Linked DNA regions of Homo sapiens: region 1 is linked to region 2. A link means that fine-mapping ties the variant in region 2 to the expression of a gene that starts in the linked region. Tissue or cell type: cerebellum. Region 2 holds a variant in brackets; the other region holds the start of a gene. All regions are shown on one strand. Distances are from middle to middle.

Evidence for each region. PIP is the estimated chance that this variant, and not a neighbour inherited with it, causes the effect.
Region 1: ZYG11A starts here. The variant in region 2 is fine-mapped to the expression of ZYG11A in cerebellum (GTEx, PIP above 0.99).

Annotation. Positions count from the first base shown.
Region 1 is chr1:52,838,178-52,846,344 of GRCh38, forward strand. It overlaps ZYG11A (zyg-11 family member A, cell cycle regulator), which reads left to right and starts at 4,583. Exons shown (of 14, transcript NM_001004339.3): 1 at 4,583-4,796. The coding sequence starts at 4,707. RefSeq lists a silencer at 4,333-4,662 and an enhancer at 5,164-5,757.
Region 2 is chr1:53,582,252-53,590,439 of GRCh38, forward strand. The region is part of intron 4 of GLIS1 (GLIS family zinc finger 1); the gene reads right to left. Among named protein-coding and RNA genes, the nearest start is that of DMRTB1, 130 kb to the left of the region's middle. RefSeq lists a silencer at 2,991-3,191. The variant C/T (reference allele first, on the strand shown) is at 4,276.

The DNA.
Region 1 (8,167 bases), 740 kb before region 2:
ACCTACACACTATCTTGCCATTGGATTTCCTACTCTGTGGAAAACATGCAGCTTTGTTTTTGTTTTTTGTCCTTTTTTTCCTCCTTTTTGTGGGAATGGGGTCTCGCCATATTGCCCAGGCAGGTCTCGTACTCCTGGGTTCAAGCTATTCCCCTGTCTCTGTCGCCCTAAGGACTGGGATTACAGGCGTGAGCCACTGCGCCTGGCAACTTGCTGCTTTGTATAATCTCAGTAGAAGGGCCGGGCGCAGTGGCTCAAGCTGTAATCCCAGCACTTTGGGAGGCCGAGGCGGGCGGATCACAAGGTCAGGAGATCGAGACCATCCTGGCTAACACGGTGAAACCCCGTCTCTACTAAAAATACAAGAAGTTAGCCAGGCGTGGTGGTGGGCGCCTGTAGTCCCAGCTACTTGGGAGGCTGAGGCAGGAGAACAGCATGAACCTGGGAGGCAGAGCTTGCAGTGAGCCGAGATTGCACCACTGCACTCCAGCCTGGGTGACAGAGTGAGACCCCATCTCAAAAAAAAAATAAAAAAATAAAAAATAATCTCAGTAGAATATGAGGAAAAAAGGATAGCCAGAAGCCCTCCAAAACTGATTCATGAAATAAAACACATAATTGATTTTTTTTTCTTAAACACAGAGTATCAAAAGACACAGGACAGGGTGCCCAGATCGACTGTTCTGTGCTCCAAATAATAACAATGATAATTTCATTTTTTAAATTTATTGTTATTTATTTTTTATTTTTGTCTGAGATGGAGTCTTGCTCTGTTGCCTAGGCTGGAATGCAATGGCGCAATCTGGGCTCACTGCAACCTCTGCCTCCCATGTTTAAACGATTCTCCCGCCTCAGCCTCCCGAGTAGCTGGGATTACGGGCATCTGCCACCAAGCCCGGCTAATTTTGTATTTTTACTAGAGATGGAGTTTCATCATGTTGGCCAGGCTGGTTTTGAACTCCTGACCTCAGGTGATCCACCCACCTCAGCCTCCCGAAGTGCAGGGATTACAGGCATGAGCCACTGCGCCCAGCCGATTTTATTTATTTATTTTTTTTGAGACACAGTTTCCTTTTTGTCACCCAAGCTGGAGTGCAATGGCACAATCTCGGCTCACTGCAATCTCCACCTCCCAGGTTCAAGTTATTCTCTTGCTTTAGCCTCCCAAGTAGCTGGGATTACAGGCGCCTGCCACCCCGCTTGGCTAATTTTTGTATTTTTAGTAGAGAGAGAGTTTCATCATGTTGGTCAGGCTGGTCTCGAACTCCTGACCTCAAGTGATCCATCCACCTCGGCCTCCCACAGTGCCGGGATTACAGGAGTGAGCCACCACGCCTGGCCAATAACAATAATTTTAAAAGCAAAACCGCTCTGTAGGTTATTTGCCCACAAGCAGCACTTGGCTCCTGGCCTTAAAAATGCCAGGAGAAGACTGACAATCAGGCCACCGCTTTGTGCCCATGACAGAAACGGCAAAGCCTATTTTTTTTTTTTTTTTTTTTTTTGAGACGGAGTCTCACTCTGTCGCCCAGGCTGGAGTGCAGTGGCGGGATCTCGGCTCACTGCAAGCTCCGCCTCCCGGGTTCACGCCATTCTCCTGCCTCAGCCTCCCAAGTAGCTGGGACTACAGGCGCCCGCCACTACGCCCGGCTAATTTTTTGTATTTTTAGTAGAGACGGGGTTTCACCGTTTTAGCCGGGATGGTCTCGATCTCCTGACCTCGTGATCCGCCCGCCTCGGCCTCCCAAAGTGCTGGGATTACAGGCGTGAGCCACCGCGCCCGGCCCTATTTTTTTATTTTTATTTATTTTTTAAGAAAGAGAGTCTCACTCTGTCGCCAGGCTGGAGTGCAGTGGCGTCATCTCGGCTCACTGCAACTTCCGCCTCCTGCGTTCAAGGAATTCTCCTGCCTCAGCCTCCCGAGCAGCTGGGACTACAGGCGCACACCACCATGCCCAGCTAATTTTTGTGTTTTTAGTAGAAACGGGGTTTCTCCATGTTGGTCAGGCTGGTCTCAAACCCCGACTTCAGGTGATTCACTTGCCTTGGCCTCCCAAAATGTTGGGATTACGGTGTGAGCCACTGCACCCAGCCACTTTTATTTACTTATTTTTACTTTTTGCAACAAAGTCTCGCTTTGTCACCGGGGCTGGAGTGCAATGGCGCAATCTAAATTTACTGCAACCTCTGCCTCCTGGGTTCAAGCAAATCTGGCTCAGCCTCCCAAGTAGCTGGGATTACAGGGATGCGCCACCATGCCCAGGTAATTTTTTTGTGTATTTTTAGTAGAGATTGGGTTTCACTATGTTGGCCAGGCTGGTCTTGAACTCCTGACTTCAGGCGATCCACCCATCTCGGCCTCCCATAGTGCTGGGATTACAGGCATGAGCCACCGTGCCTGGCCTCATGTGTTACGTTTTAAATTAATTGGTTTAATAATAAGAGCTTAAATAAAATATTTTGTCAGAAAAGTGAAAAACATAATGCCTTTTATTTAGTTCATGTGACTTGGGTAATCTTTGGGAAATAAAGATGGGTTTAAAGATTATTGATAAAATACAAATGTCTTCAAAATGTAAACATGTGGTCAAAATTATGTTCAAATATTAGGTTTGCTAAATGCTTTAAGGTCATAAACTGCTTCCTTGGCTTTTGAAAATTGTTTAACTTGCCTGTTTTCTAGCTCGGTAAGGCCTGGGACATATGCAGTTGGCCACACCTCTAGATATGCTGGAAATAGTCAAACCTTATGAGAACATAACTTACCAGGTTCTATATTAAAGTTAAAATTGCTGAAATTCACACTTCAGCTGTAATAGGAAATATCCTCTCCATTGGGCAAAAGCCGAGGAAATGACTGTAACTTTCCTTCATCCTCGTCATTTACATAGGGCATACCCCAAGTAGAGGGTATTTAAACTCCCAAAAATTCTGTAACGGGGTCTTTGAGCCCCAGTGCTCGGGCCCACTCCCACATTGTGGCATTGTGGAGTGTACTTTCATTTTCAATAAATCCCTTCATTCCTTCCTTGTTTGTGCGTTTTGTCCAATTCTTTGTTCAAGACACCAAGAACATGAACACCCTCCACCGTTAACAAAAGCATATTGGCGGGGGCACGGTGGCTCACGCCTGTAATCCCAACATTTTGAGACGCCGAGGCGTGCGGATCACCAGGTCAGGAGATCTAGACCATCCTGGCCAACATGGTGAAACGCTGTCTCTACTAAAAATACAAAAATTAGCCGGGTGTGGTGGCGCGCGCCTGGAGTCCCAGCTGCTTGGGAGGCTGAGGCAGGAGAATCACTTGAACCCAGGAGGCGGAGGTTGCTGTGAGCTGAGATCGCGTCACTGCACTCCAGCCTGGGCAACAGAGCGAGACTCCGTCTAAAAAAAAAAAAAAAAAAAAAGCATATTGATTGGACTTGCAGTAAGAAAACTCAATTTTGACTCCCAGGTTGGCCACTCATCAGCTGGCCAAAAAACGTGTTGTCTATTCAACCTGTCAGTTCTTCAGTTTCCCTGTGAGAAAAATGGGGATGATACCTACAGCACAGGATTTTTTTTCTTCTTGTAGTAAGTGGATTAAATAAAAGAATAAATAAATGAAAGAAAAGCATTAGGCAAAGTACTTAAAAATAATTTTAACATCTGAATCCAATCCACTTATCAAGGACTTACTATGTAAAAAGCATTGTGATGTGTTTTACATACATTATTTAATCCTTACATTAAGTCTGTGAGATAAAGCATTCTCATTCTATTTTACTGATGAGGAAGTTGAGCTTCAGAGACATCAAGAATCTTGCTCCAGGTTCTCAAACACTAGATGGCTGAGCGGGCATTCTAATTCAGGATTCAAACTCCAAGGCTCATGCTCTTGAGAACTTTCCTTTTCCAAGGTATTGCTTTCTCTTAAATTAGCTAATGTGTACTAACTTGTGGAGTTTCTTTCCTGGAGAAAGTTAGAAGGGTCTCTCGGGGTTTCTTTCTTGGAGCAGGTTATAAGGGTCTTCTCGAGTACTTTTTAAGTAACAAGAAAGCTAAATAGATTTTTTGGTAGATACTTGCCAATATTTTGTATTCGTTTTATATTTGATTTATCCAGATACTCTAAGGAGTTGAAACAGAGAGGACCGTTAGAGAGGTGCTGTTGCCAGATTTTCAGGGGCAAAGTCTTTGAAATATATATTTTAATGTATGAAAGCTTTAAAAAATATATACATATATAGAAATAATGAATATGTGTGTGTGTGTGTGTGTGTGTGTGTGTGTGTGTGTGTGTACATGTATATATATATACAGTATTCCCCAAACCTACACAGCCGGTCCTCGGGGAATATCCTCTCAAGCCCTGAGGTGCAGGGCTGGGAAGGAGTGGGTGAGCGGCTGGGTCGTGGCAGGTTGGTCTGGGGAGGCTGGGGAGGCTGGGGAGGCGGGAGGAGAACGGTTGGCCCCGGCAGCGGCGTGTCGGAGGGCGGATGGGGCTAGGAGGCCGCCCGGGGGGTGGGGTCTGCGGCGGGCCGGCCCCCGCGTGCGCGTCGCCTCGCCGGGCATTTCAAAAGCTCGCCGGCAGGGCGCGGCGCTAGCTCCGTGTGCCTCGCAGGCGTGGTGGGCGCGTCCTGGCAGCCGCCCGCTTGGTTCTCGCGGGATCCGGGCTCCGGCTCGACGCCGGCTCTCTTTTTGACGCCCCGCCGCCGGGGTTGCCATGGTTCATTTCTTGCACCCGGGCCACACGCCCCGGAACATCGTCCCTCCTGACGCTCAGAAGGATGCCCTGGGCTGCTGCGTGGTACAGGTGAGCACCGGGGTGCGGGCGGCGACGCGGACCTCGGCGCCACGTCCAGCTCCGGCGAGCGCGGCGAGTCTCCTGGGACGCTGCCGAGGCACTTGCTGGGGAGTGTGGCCCGCGCGGGGCTGCGGTCTAGATGCCGAGCCCCTTCCAGGCGCAGGCGTCGCTGCGGAGGTGCGTTGTCGGGGGAGGCGGCCTGGGCGCCGCGGAGCGGGGGGTGCTTTTCTGCGCCCGGCGAAGCGCGTGGAACTTGCGCCCTGAGGCAGCGCGGCGAGAGCCCAGTCCCAGAGACCGGGGCGAGCCTCCTCAGGATTCCTCGCCCCAGTGCGGGCTGCTGTGAGCTTAGACGTAGGTGCAGGGCATGGCACTCGGCTTGGCCCGTAGTGGACGGTGTTTTTGCAGTCATGAACCCAAACGCCGCAAACCTTGACCGTTTCCCCACCCGTGTTGTGGACGCAGCGCCCCGCGGAGGCGGTGACCCTTTGGCCGTTACCACCTGAGGCCTTTGGGCCCGGGGCCGGGCGAGTAGCTTAGTCCGGCTGGGGGAACTGGAACCCGAAGTCTGAGATTCTTTCAGTTCCGCGCGTCCGCCCCCGTCCCCGTCCCGTCCCCAGCCTTTGCCGAATGCCTGTTACTCTTAGCTCTGGACAAAATGCAAACCCAAAGAATGTGTGTTTAGCGCCTGCTGTGTGTTAAGTGTCGCCTTTCTTTTCTTTCTTTCTTTTTTTTTTTTTTTTTGAGACGGAGTCTCGCTCTGTCACCAGGCTGGAGTGCAGTGGCGCGATCTGGGCCCACTGCAACCTCCGCCTCCGGGGTTCAAGCGATTCTTCTGCCTCAGCCTCCCGAGTAGGTGGGACTACAGGCGCGTGCCACCATGCCCGACTCATTTTTTGTATTTTTAGTAGAGACGGGGTTTCACCATGTTGGCCAGGATGGTTTCGAACTCCAGACCTCGTGATCTACCCGCCTCGGCCTCCCAGAGTGCTGGGATTACAGGCGTCAGCCACCGTGCCCGGCCAAGTGTCGCCTTTCTAAAGCAGTCTGGTAACCCCTAGTCTTTTGTAGGCTTTGCTAGGCTCCATTTTACCGATGTAGGGAAGTTGGGAGCTCTGAAATTTAGTTGACTTGCTCGTGAACTTGAATTTCACCTCAGGTGTTCAGACCTCTGGCCCCACTTTGGAAAAAACCCGCCAAGGGCCACCCTTGGGGAACTCGAGGGATTGAGTGGTGAAGGCTCGACCCAAAATTTATGGAGAGAAGGAAATGTTCTGATTAAGGTTGTGCTTTACATATTAACGCCTTGTTGGAAGACTTTGTGCCCTGCAGTGATCTAGCCTGTAATCTTTTGAACTCATTTAGAAAAGTTATATAATTTGTGGATTTGTAATTAATGGAAAACTTGGATTTTTTACGTGTGTGCTAGCATCGTCTCAAGCACATTTTTTCCTGCTTGGAATCGAAACAAGATTTCTTTACAAAAGTACTCACACCCATTTTCTCTGTCTAGTTCTGGGTATATCTCATTTTCTTTGTTAAGGATTTTATTTATTTTTAATTAATTATTTTAATTACACAAATATTGCATGAATACTTTTTTCCCTATGAAACATACATACAATTATTTCCATTTATGTCATTTTAATCTTCTCTTAGCAATGTTTTGTAGTTTTTAATATAAAAGTCTTTTCACATTTTGTTAAATTTGTTCCTGTTCTTGATACTATTGTAAATACTTTTTTTTTTTGAGACGGAGTCTCCCAAAGTGCTGGGATTACAGGCATGAGCCACCGTGCCCGGCCAGCAAATATTTTTTAAAACTTTATATTACCTTGTGTATATATAAGAATACATAAAATTGATTTTTGTATATTGATCTTGTATCCTACAGCCTGGCCAAAGTCACTTAGTTTTCTTTATTTTTTTGTAAATTTTTAAAGATTTTCTACACAGTCATATTATTTTCTTTTTATCCTTTTAATTTTTTATTTTTAATTAAGACGGTGGTTTCCCTATTGTCCAGGCTGGTCTTTGAACTCCGGCTCAAGCAATCCTCTTGCCTTGGCCTCCCATATCTTTTCAATTTTTTGCTTCATGAATTTTGAAGCTATTAGTAAGTTCGTATGCATTTAGGAATGTTAATTCTGCTTGATGAATTGGCCCTTTTATCATTAAGAAATGTCCATCTTGATCTCTAGCAATATTCTTGTCCAGAAGCCTCATTTTTTCTGACAGTGTAGTCACTCCAGTTTCCTTGTGTCTAGTGTTTAACAACTGTATGTTTTAAATTGTGTCTCTTGTAAACAGCAATCTTGCATTTGTATGTAGCCTAATGGTCTGTGCTTTTTTTTTTTTTTTTGAGACGGAGCCTTGCTCTGTCACTCAGGCTGGAGTACAGTGGTACAATCTTGACTCACTGCAACCTCCGCCTCCCGGGTTCAAGCGATTCTCTCGCCTCAGCCTCCTGAGTAGCTGGGACTACAAGTGTGTGCCACCATTTCCTGGCTAATTTTTGTATTTTTGTAGAGACAGGTATTTTTGTAGAGGCGGGGTTTCACCATGTTGCCCAGGCTGGTCCTGAACTCCTGGCCTCAAGCGACCTGCCCATCTTGACCACCCAAAGTGCTGGGATTACAGGCGTGAACCACTGCACCCAGCCTTTATTTTTGAATTTTTTTTTTTTTTTTTTTACAGAGGACAGGAAAGTAAACATTTTAATTTTTTTAATTAAAAATGTATTTTTTAAATTGATTTTTGCAGGGAGGAGAGAGTCTCACTCTGTTGCCCAGGTTTGAGTGCAGTCTGTGATCATAGCTCATCCTCCCTCCTCAGCCTCCCTAGTAGCTAGACTATAGGTGTGCACCACCATGCCTGGCTGTTTTTTATTTTTTGTAGAGGCTGAGTCTTGCTTTGTTGCCCAGGCTAGTCTCAGACTTCTGGCCTCAGCCTCCCAAAGTTCTGGGATTCCAGATGTGAGCCACTGTGCCCGGCCTTTCTGTGCTTTTTAATTAGAATAAATATAATTATCAGTATTGTTGGGGTTAAGTCTACTGTGTTGCTATATATGTTCCATTTGTCTTGTTTTTTCCTTTTCTTTTGAATTATTTAGAAAATACCATGTTCTCTTTTGACTTAGTAGTTCTCTCTTTCTCTCCCTTTCTCCTTCTTACTCTTTAATAGTCACTCAAAGGTAGCTGTTTTCAAAGTGTGGACCCCAGGACCTCCAGAATCCCATCTCTTCCATTAGCCTGCCTGTTAATGAAATTTGCAAAAATGTAAAACAGTGCTGCTGTTCTCAACTAAGCTAGTTTTTAGTTCTTTTGGAAATCATGGCTTTTTAAATTTTTATATATATATATATATATATATATATATATATA
Region 2 (8,188 bases):
CAAGCCTGTGTGGGTCTTTGCACAAGCCAGGCTTCCTCTGACCCTAACACCCACAGCAATCAGTCATCACACCTTCCCAATGCACTAAGAAGGTGTGACATTTGAAACTGGTTAAAGTCTCCCTGGAGCCTGCCCAGCAGCTCTTTGTGAATCAGACCCTGCTAGGAGGGAAGGTGATTTTGACACGTGTGGTCTACATGCACCGCCAACCGTCTCCTGCTGTGTGACCTCCAGCAGGTCACCTCTCCGCCCTGGGTCTCAAGGCCCCATCTGTCAAAGGGTGTGGCAGGGGTTGGGAGGGGCATCAGAGGAGCTGCTGAACCTGGGAAATTTCCTCCCAGTGCACATGACAAGAGCCAGTGTTCTTCAGAATCTGGAAGGCAACACATGTAAGTGCTCACCGCAGGTGGTACTAGCACACAGGTGGTACTCAGCAGACTGTGGTGTCTAGCAGGCAGGACACTGGCTGGGAGTGAGGGATGCTGAGCTTGCCTCTTTCGCTCTGCAATTTCCAGTGAGCCACATCCTCTCTATGGGCCTCAGTTTCCACATCTGCAAACAGCAAATGTGAAGATCCAGGCAGTCGGCCTTGTGGCCTAGCTGAGGCACCTTCTGTTGTCCTGGACTCCTGTGGGAAGGAGGGAGGGGAGCAGGTAGAAGGGGTACTGGGGATCTTACGGAAGTATCTGAAGCACTCATTTTTTCTGCCTGTGGCCAGACTCTCTTAAGCTCCAATCACTGTCATGTTCACTGGCAACTCAGCCTGATCAGAAATGACCCCGTAAGCCAAACTGCCTCCCAAAACTTGGGGTTCAGCAGATGCTGGGAAGAATACACTCACATTTAAATGTGGTAGGCAACTAGGGACAGCGGGAAGATCATGGGGCAGAGCCAGGACCTGAGCTGGAGGCGCAGATGTAACACTGGCCAAGTAGCTTCCACTCTGTGCATTTCAGTGACCCCACTGTGAAACAGCAATCCAGCCACCGCCCTGTGCCTTCCCTGAGCACAGGATCTAGCCATCAAAACTCTGCAGCCCAGGGCCCTGCCCAGGGCCTGACTGTTCCCCAGGAAGATACAAATGTTACTTTTGGCTTGAAAACACTATGGCTTGGGGATCTGATAAAACAAAGGGGCTGCTAGATGGTTCATCAGTTGAACAGACACTCACTGGGTGCTCTGTGCCCAGCAGATGTCCCAGTCTTGCCCCCCAGAATGCAGAGTCCTGCAGAGACCTCCAGTCCCATTGCCCCATCCCCAGGAAACGTACCGCCCAGTACCACATTGTCCATCTGCTGTCTGAGCTTATGTCCCAACATGGCAGGACCTATCAAGGGAAGTGGCTATACAGAGAGGGCAAGAGCAGGCTGCCTTCTAACAGGAGGCCACCTCCCAGCCATTTGGAAATTGCTACTTGCAAGGCAACAGAATCTCAGTGACAGATTCTCATTTTATCATTACCCACGTCACAAGAATGTATTGCGAGGAGGAGGGGCCGGGAAAGTCGGTGCCTTAATCACTTACAGACCACGGAGGCCCCAGTCCTGGCAGTGGAAGAAGATTTATTGTGGGGACGGGTGGAAAACAAAGAACAGTTGTGCAAACTTTACGGAACCACATTATGGGATATGCTTTTCCCATTTCCCACTGGCAAATGTGCTGGAGGCAGTTTCCGAAGGAGGACCCAGCTCCATTACCCAAACATGTGCAGACACTGTGCCCCAGCACGACACACTAGGCTGACCTGGCCTGGCCCACGGGTGCCCAGGCGTTGGCAAGACTGGGTGCATGGTCCGAGGCCGGTGGATCTGTGGAAGAAGGGCTCCAGATTTGAGTGGACTGCCCTTCCTGAGCCCCAGTGTCCTCATCTGCCAATTGCCATGTACCCACCACACTAGCAACACTAAATGTTACCTCTGCCCATATCACAGTCCTGTGTACAACTCTTCTGAGACTCTCTCCACTCCCTCGGGGCACAGTCCAATTTCCTTACACTAGACCTTGAGGCCCTTTGAGGCTCAATTCCGATGTTTCTGCCCTCAGCCCCCATGCAGGTAATTCACTTCAAGACCAAAAGGACACCTATGTTCCCCACAAGGTCAAGACTATCACATGTCAAAACCTTCACGTGTGCTGTTTCCTTTCCCTGCAATGGGTCTTCTCATGGTCTACACCTGGAAAGTGCCCACCCACCTGTCAGAGCCCAGCTCTCATGACATCCTGAGGAAATCCTTCTCCCTCCTCTGTGTCAGAGGCATTTGGTTAATTCATTTGCCACCAGACCATTCTTCCTTTGACACTGTACTCCTTGCTTCTAGCACTGAACTTGGCACAAGGGGGTGTCAAGCTGTGTTGAAAGGTTGGTGGCCAGGTGGGGGTGGACAATACAGATTAGCCCAAGGCTGTCTCCCAAGGGAAGGGCACAGTTAAGGAAGGACTCTAAAGAAGGGCCTCTTCTCCTCAGCATCTCGGTCTTGGTGTGTCCAAGGTGACCGAGACCTTAGGGGTTACCTGGCCCATCCCCCATTTAACAGACGAGAACAGGATGCTGAGGTCTGCAGCTGCAGCCATCCAAGTGAGCACACAAAGCCAGCTCTGGCAACCCCATCTGTTATCCAGCAGAGACAGAGTCTATAAATTCTCAGTTACGAAGTTTGCCATTTCCAGGATGGCCCTCTCAGAAAACATGGTCTGGACACCTTCTTAAAGTCACTGTTGATTTTATCTGACATTCTCACTCCAGTAAGACAATCATTTCAATTCCATTTACATTAAGTTCAAAAGCTTTTTCCTTTATTAGTTTAAATTCAATTCAAATAGTTGTGTTTTTTATCCTTAATTTTTTTTCATATTCCATAAAGCAATGTTGGGCTCACAAAACTTGGCCAGCCCTCCTGTTCCCTCAAATTTGGTGCTCCTGGGAATTCTCTTCCCTGTGAGAGCTTGGGACTAACGACTTCAAAAAATGGGGAGGTGGGGGAAGGAACAAGGGCTCCTGTTTTCAAGCATCTAATATGCGCCAGGCACGAGGTAAGTGCTACACATATATGATCTCATCTAGTTCTCACAACACTCTCCCCTCCACGCAGACAGGAAACCAAGGCTCAGAGATGCCACGTGACTTGTCTTGAGGTCTCACAGCTGGTTAAGGGCAGAGTAAGGGATTTGAACCTTAGTGGTTGTCCTGTGTGTTTAGCCATTGGTCCACCCTGGCTCAGAATTTAAGTAAGAAGGGAAAGGGGTGGGGGGTCAGGGATGGAGATAAGTAGAAATGGGGGATGGGGAATGGGGGTGAAACAGGGCAGGGTGGGGATGGAGGTGGAAGTGAGGTGGGGGTGGGCTGTGGAGCAGGGAAGGAGGGCATCCAGCAAAGCTGCAGGCTGAGGCCTCAAGACCAGGAACTACATTTGGGGAGCACATAGCCAACCTGTTCCATTCCTGATGGGGAATCTAACCGGGAGGAACACACCTGTGAAAGTGCCCTGTCTGTACTCAGAGGCCTGGCTGCAGGCAGGAGTACTGGAATGGGAGTCAGAGACTCAGCTTCAGCCCAGCAGCCCTGACTAGGGCAACAGTGCCCCTCTGCAGAGCACTCTGCAGGTACAGAGCACAGCCCCTCCACCCCCTACAGAAACTTCTGGGGTGAGCATCACAGCTCCCATTTTACAGATGCAAAAACAGACTTGGGAGTGAAGTGTCTTGTCCAAGGCTGCATGGCTAGTGAGCAGCAGAGCTGGGATGAGTCTCCAACTCCATCTATCTCCAGTCCCTCTTGTCCTTCCCCAGGCAAGTTATTTCCATCTGGGGACTCAGTCTCCCCTCTGCACAGTGGCTGGTGGGGGACGAGGCTCTGACCTAATTGCAAGGCCAGAGAACTGGAAGGACACTGGCTTCCAGGAAGCCTCTCCTTGTTAAGCCCAAGCCCCCTGGGTTTGCTTTTCCAAAACAGGGGAGGAAGAAAAGCATCCCAATGTAAGCCAAGATCTGTGGAGCTAAACCTCGGGCTCAAGAGAAGAAAGGACATTGGCATCTGTTGAGCCCCTACTAAACACTGTCTACTGCAGACTCTGACTGCTAGGCACTATCCCATTTCACAGTGCAGGAAACTGAGGCTCAGCACAGCCAAGCGACGCATCCAAGGTCACAGAGCCAGCCCATGGCAGAGCTGGGACTTCCAACAGCCTTTTCTGTTTCTTTGGGGACATTCGTGACTGAACAGCCACTATCCATTTTAGACTTTCCCTTTTCTCTTTCGCAAATGCAAACTGTCCAGAA[C/T]GGCCAGGACCATTCTGATATACTTACTGTGTGCCATTGTCTAGTTTCTCATCAAAGCCTCACAACAGTCCTATTACCCCAATTTCATAGGTAAGAAAACCGAGGCTTATAGAAGTCAAGCTATACTTGTACACAATCACAGGCTGAGGGGTGGCAAAGCTAGGTTTCAAATTCAGGCTTTCTTGCAGAAAAACTTCAAGCACCAGATTAGGGGGTAGACGTGACAGTCTTTAAAGTCCCACCAATGTTGTGACTTCATGGGAAACTACTCAGGAAGACAGGGTCCGGGCAACCTCACACAGCCTTGGAACAGAGAGAACAGATAATCACAGGGCAGAGCCTCTGTCCTAGGGAGGGGACTCAGCTCCTCCACAATGAAGGCCAGGCCAGGCACTGAAGGGCATGTGGTCCCCCAGACACTTGGCCATGTTAGGAACCACTGTTACACACAGCGCAACACATGCTGGGAGAACAGGAGGCACAGAGAAAGGGGGAGCTAAGGAGGGAGCACTGAACTGAGTTGTGAAGGATGTATAGGAGTTTGCCAGGCTAGGAAAGGCATTCTAGACAAAGGAATCAGCAAAAGCCAAGACCCAAAGGATTTAAAGGACCTGGAGAATGCAGACTCTCTAGGAATTCAGGAGGAGAGGAAGCTTCAGGGCAGGAAGAAATAAAGCAGGCATCCCTGGGTTGCTGTTAATGTACCGGATGACATGAGGCCATGGTGCCTGCTCTCTGGGCTTCAGCTTCCCCACCTAATAATGAGGGTAGACATGAGAAGTGACATGATCCCAGGAAGGATCATTAACGAGGACACTTCTGGATGCCAACTTGCAAGCTGACTTTGCCCAAAACAGGTCTCCTTCCCAGATCCATCCAATCCTAGATTGAGTTGAGGCAAGTTGAGGATAGACTTGGTGGCTTGAGTGGGTGGGACCACTTGGCCTCTCTGGCCTCATTTACAGCAGGATTCTCCAGGGCAGCTTTTTGATTTGACCAGAAACCCCAGCCTCCAGGAAGGGAGCTTGTTTCCAGGCGACTATTCTAATGAGAGTGAAATGTTTTACTTTTCAACCCATGAGGTGTTCTCTACTCCAAGACAGAACAAAGAACCCATCAAGTCAGCAGGCAACAGGCTCTCAAGGTGACTGGGTGCTGGCTTCTTGAGAAAAATAGTTACATGCAATATCCATTTACTTCCCCACTCGACTGAGGGCTCCTTGAGACCAGGCAGGATTTGATTCCCTTCTGTGACCCCAGGACCCAGCCAGGGGGCACACAGCAGGTGCTTAGTGACAGCTTGCTGAATGAGTTTCAGATCTGGATATTCTCTCAATGTTTGTAAACAGACTGATGATTCTGTGCCTGGGAGGTGGCTTGGGGTCATGGCTAGTACACAGTCTCTGGAGTCAGACTGAGACCTGGGTTTAAATCCGACCCCACCATGCATTTGGGACCTGAACTTGGGCCAGAACTGGACTGTCCTTTCCCCATCTATAAAATGGGGATCATAATTCCAGTCTCCATGAATATTTTGAGGGCTGAGATCATGCACGTGGAAGCACTACATAAACTGAAAATCGCCCAACAAGCGTCTCAATAATGATCTTGTCCCACTTGATCAACCTGGCCAAGCTTATAAAGCCAGGCTGCAAAACCTCAGCTCCTGGCTCCCCTCCCTGTCTCCATCATCCAGCAATAATATCACAAGATTCAAAAGCAGTGTTCTTCCCACAGTGCCAGAAGTCTCACATCACAACATCTTCATCTCTGCACCCCCAGCTCCTAGCACGAGGCCTGGCACACCAAAGCAAGGCAAGTGTTTCAGGGGAATAATTCTTTCCTAATTGGAGGGTCACTTTCCCACAGCCTAAACCTTCCCCAACTTTCGATTATCAGCCCCTTCAGGGAACTTTCCCTGCCCACTGATGCATACTTGTTGTGCAGTCCTGGGCCCCTGACCACCCTCTCTGGGTCTGTCTTCCCTGTTCTCTGTCTGTATGTGATGGGATGAACTGGCCGACCTGCCACTCATCCATTTCAGGATCCTGGGTAATTCCCTGGGATGAGCTTCAGATGTTGCAATGGGTGAGGGGTGTGTGCTGGCCTTAAAATGCTCAAGCCCACAGGGCTGGTCTCAAGATGTTGGGCAGGGGGCAGAAGGCAGCAGATGCACAGGGACTCCACCCACTGTGATTTGAAAAGCACAGAGGTGACTGTTCTTCTGAAGGAAGAGGTTGGGCAAAAGTAGATGAGTAGAAGGCGGTGTGTCCCATTAGAATGGGCCAGGCAGCTGAGGCAGGTCATACAGAGCAAGCCATTTTGCCTGCGAACTTCAGAAACATACAGTTTCTTCTTCTGTAAAATGGGCATGGTAATTCATGGCTGGCCATGGTAAGTTTCAGAATATATTAATTCTCTTCTCCCTCAGGATATCCCATGGGATATGAGCCCAGAACCCCAATCAAATCTCTCTCCAGTTAACACTGGTTGGGCAGGTCAGCAGATATGGTTGGTATCTACCTCCTGCCACTTGGCAGACTGTGTGATCTTGAGAAGTGATTTGGCCTCTCTGGGCCTCGGAGGTTTTTGTTTTTGAGACAGGGTCATGCTCTGTCACCCAGGCTGGAGTGCAGTGGTGTGATCATAGCTCACTATAGCCTCAAACTCCCTGGCCCAAGTGATCCTCCTGCCTCAGCCTCCCACGTAGCTGGGGCTACAGGCATGTACCACCATGCCCAGCTAGGAGGTCAAAACAACAGATAGGGAATGGCTTGCATTGAGCCAGGATAAAACCATCTCTGAATCTCAGTAAGGAGCAACTCCCTTTAGCTCCCCCGCCCCTCCCAGCACCCAGGATTTTGTTTCTCAGGGGCTGGCGGAGGGGGGTAAAGGTTTGGGGCAAGGCAAAAGGGAAAGCCAGAAGCCCCAGGATTATGGGGAATGACCGTGAGTTTGGCCCAGGCTAGGAGGGCAAGGCCCTCCCGGCAGGTCCAGCCAGGTGGCTTGTGTTCTGAGTTCCTTGGCTAGTTAAGGCCAATCCGTAATACTCAGCTTTCAACCAGATTGATTTCTCTGGCCCTAGATTCAGAGGCACCTGGGACAGACTGGCAAACAGTGGAGAGGGGCGTAAGGAATGGAGACCAGTGGCCAGTGCAGCTGCAGTGGCCAGAGGAAGCTGGGCAGGATGAAAACCCGGCCCGAGACTCCAGCAGCTCATGAGGACTGGGAGGACACGCATGGGCCTCCTATGCCACAGGTCCAGCTGCCCCAGCCTAGCTCCATGCCCCCTGAGCAGACACTGTCTGACTCAGAGAAGGTGATCTGCAAATGACTGTCAATGAACAAGATGCAAAGAATCAGGGATCCCTGGTAGATATCGAATGGCAAGGACAGAGTGCCTGCCCTGCCCAAAGCAACCACCCACATACTGCCCTTCCCACCCTACTGACAGCAGAGGCTGCTACAGTCTCAAGTCCAGGCTCTGCCACCCATTGACTGGCTCTTTTGAGCCACAGTTTCTTCATCTGTAAATCAGCTGTAAATAACCCTGCCCTAAGCCCCAGGGCTACTGTACACATCACCTGAGATCAATGCTGGAGTGTGATGGGGAAGCAAGCACCCTCCCTTACATCATCTCTTTTATCCCTAATCACAACAACCCTAAAAGGCAAGTACTATTATTACTCCATTTTACAATCGAGTATGCTGTAGTTCAGAAAGGGTAAGTCACCAGCACGAGGTCACACAGCTGCCAAGTGACTAAACCAGGCTGGGTCCCAGGTCTGTGGGACTCCAGACCTGGGCTTTTCACCTCTGCACATGCCTTCCGGACCGTGCTCACAGCTTTGGTAAAACTCTTCACCAAAGTAAGGGACTCTTCTCATGCCTATTGTTGTTTTATAAAACCCAA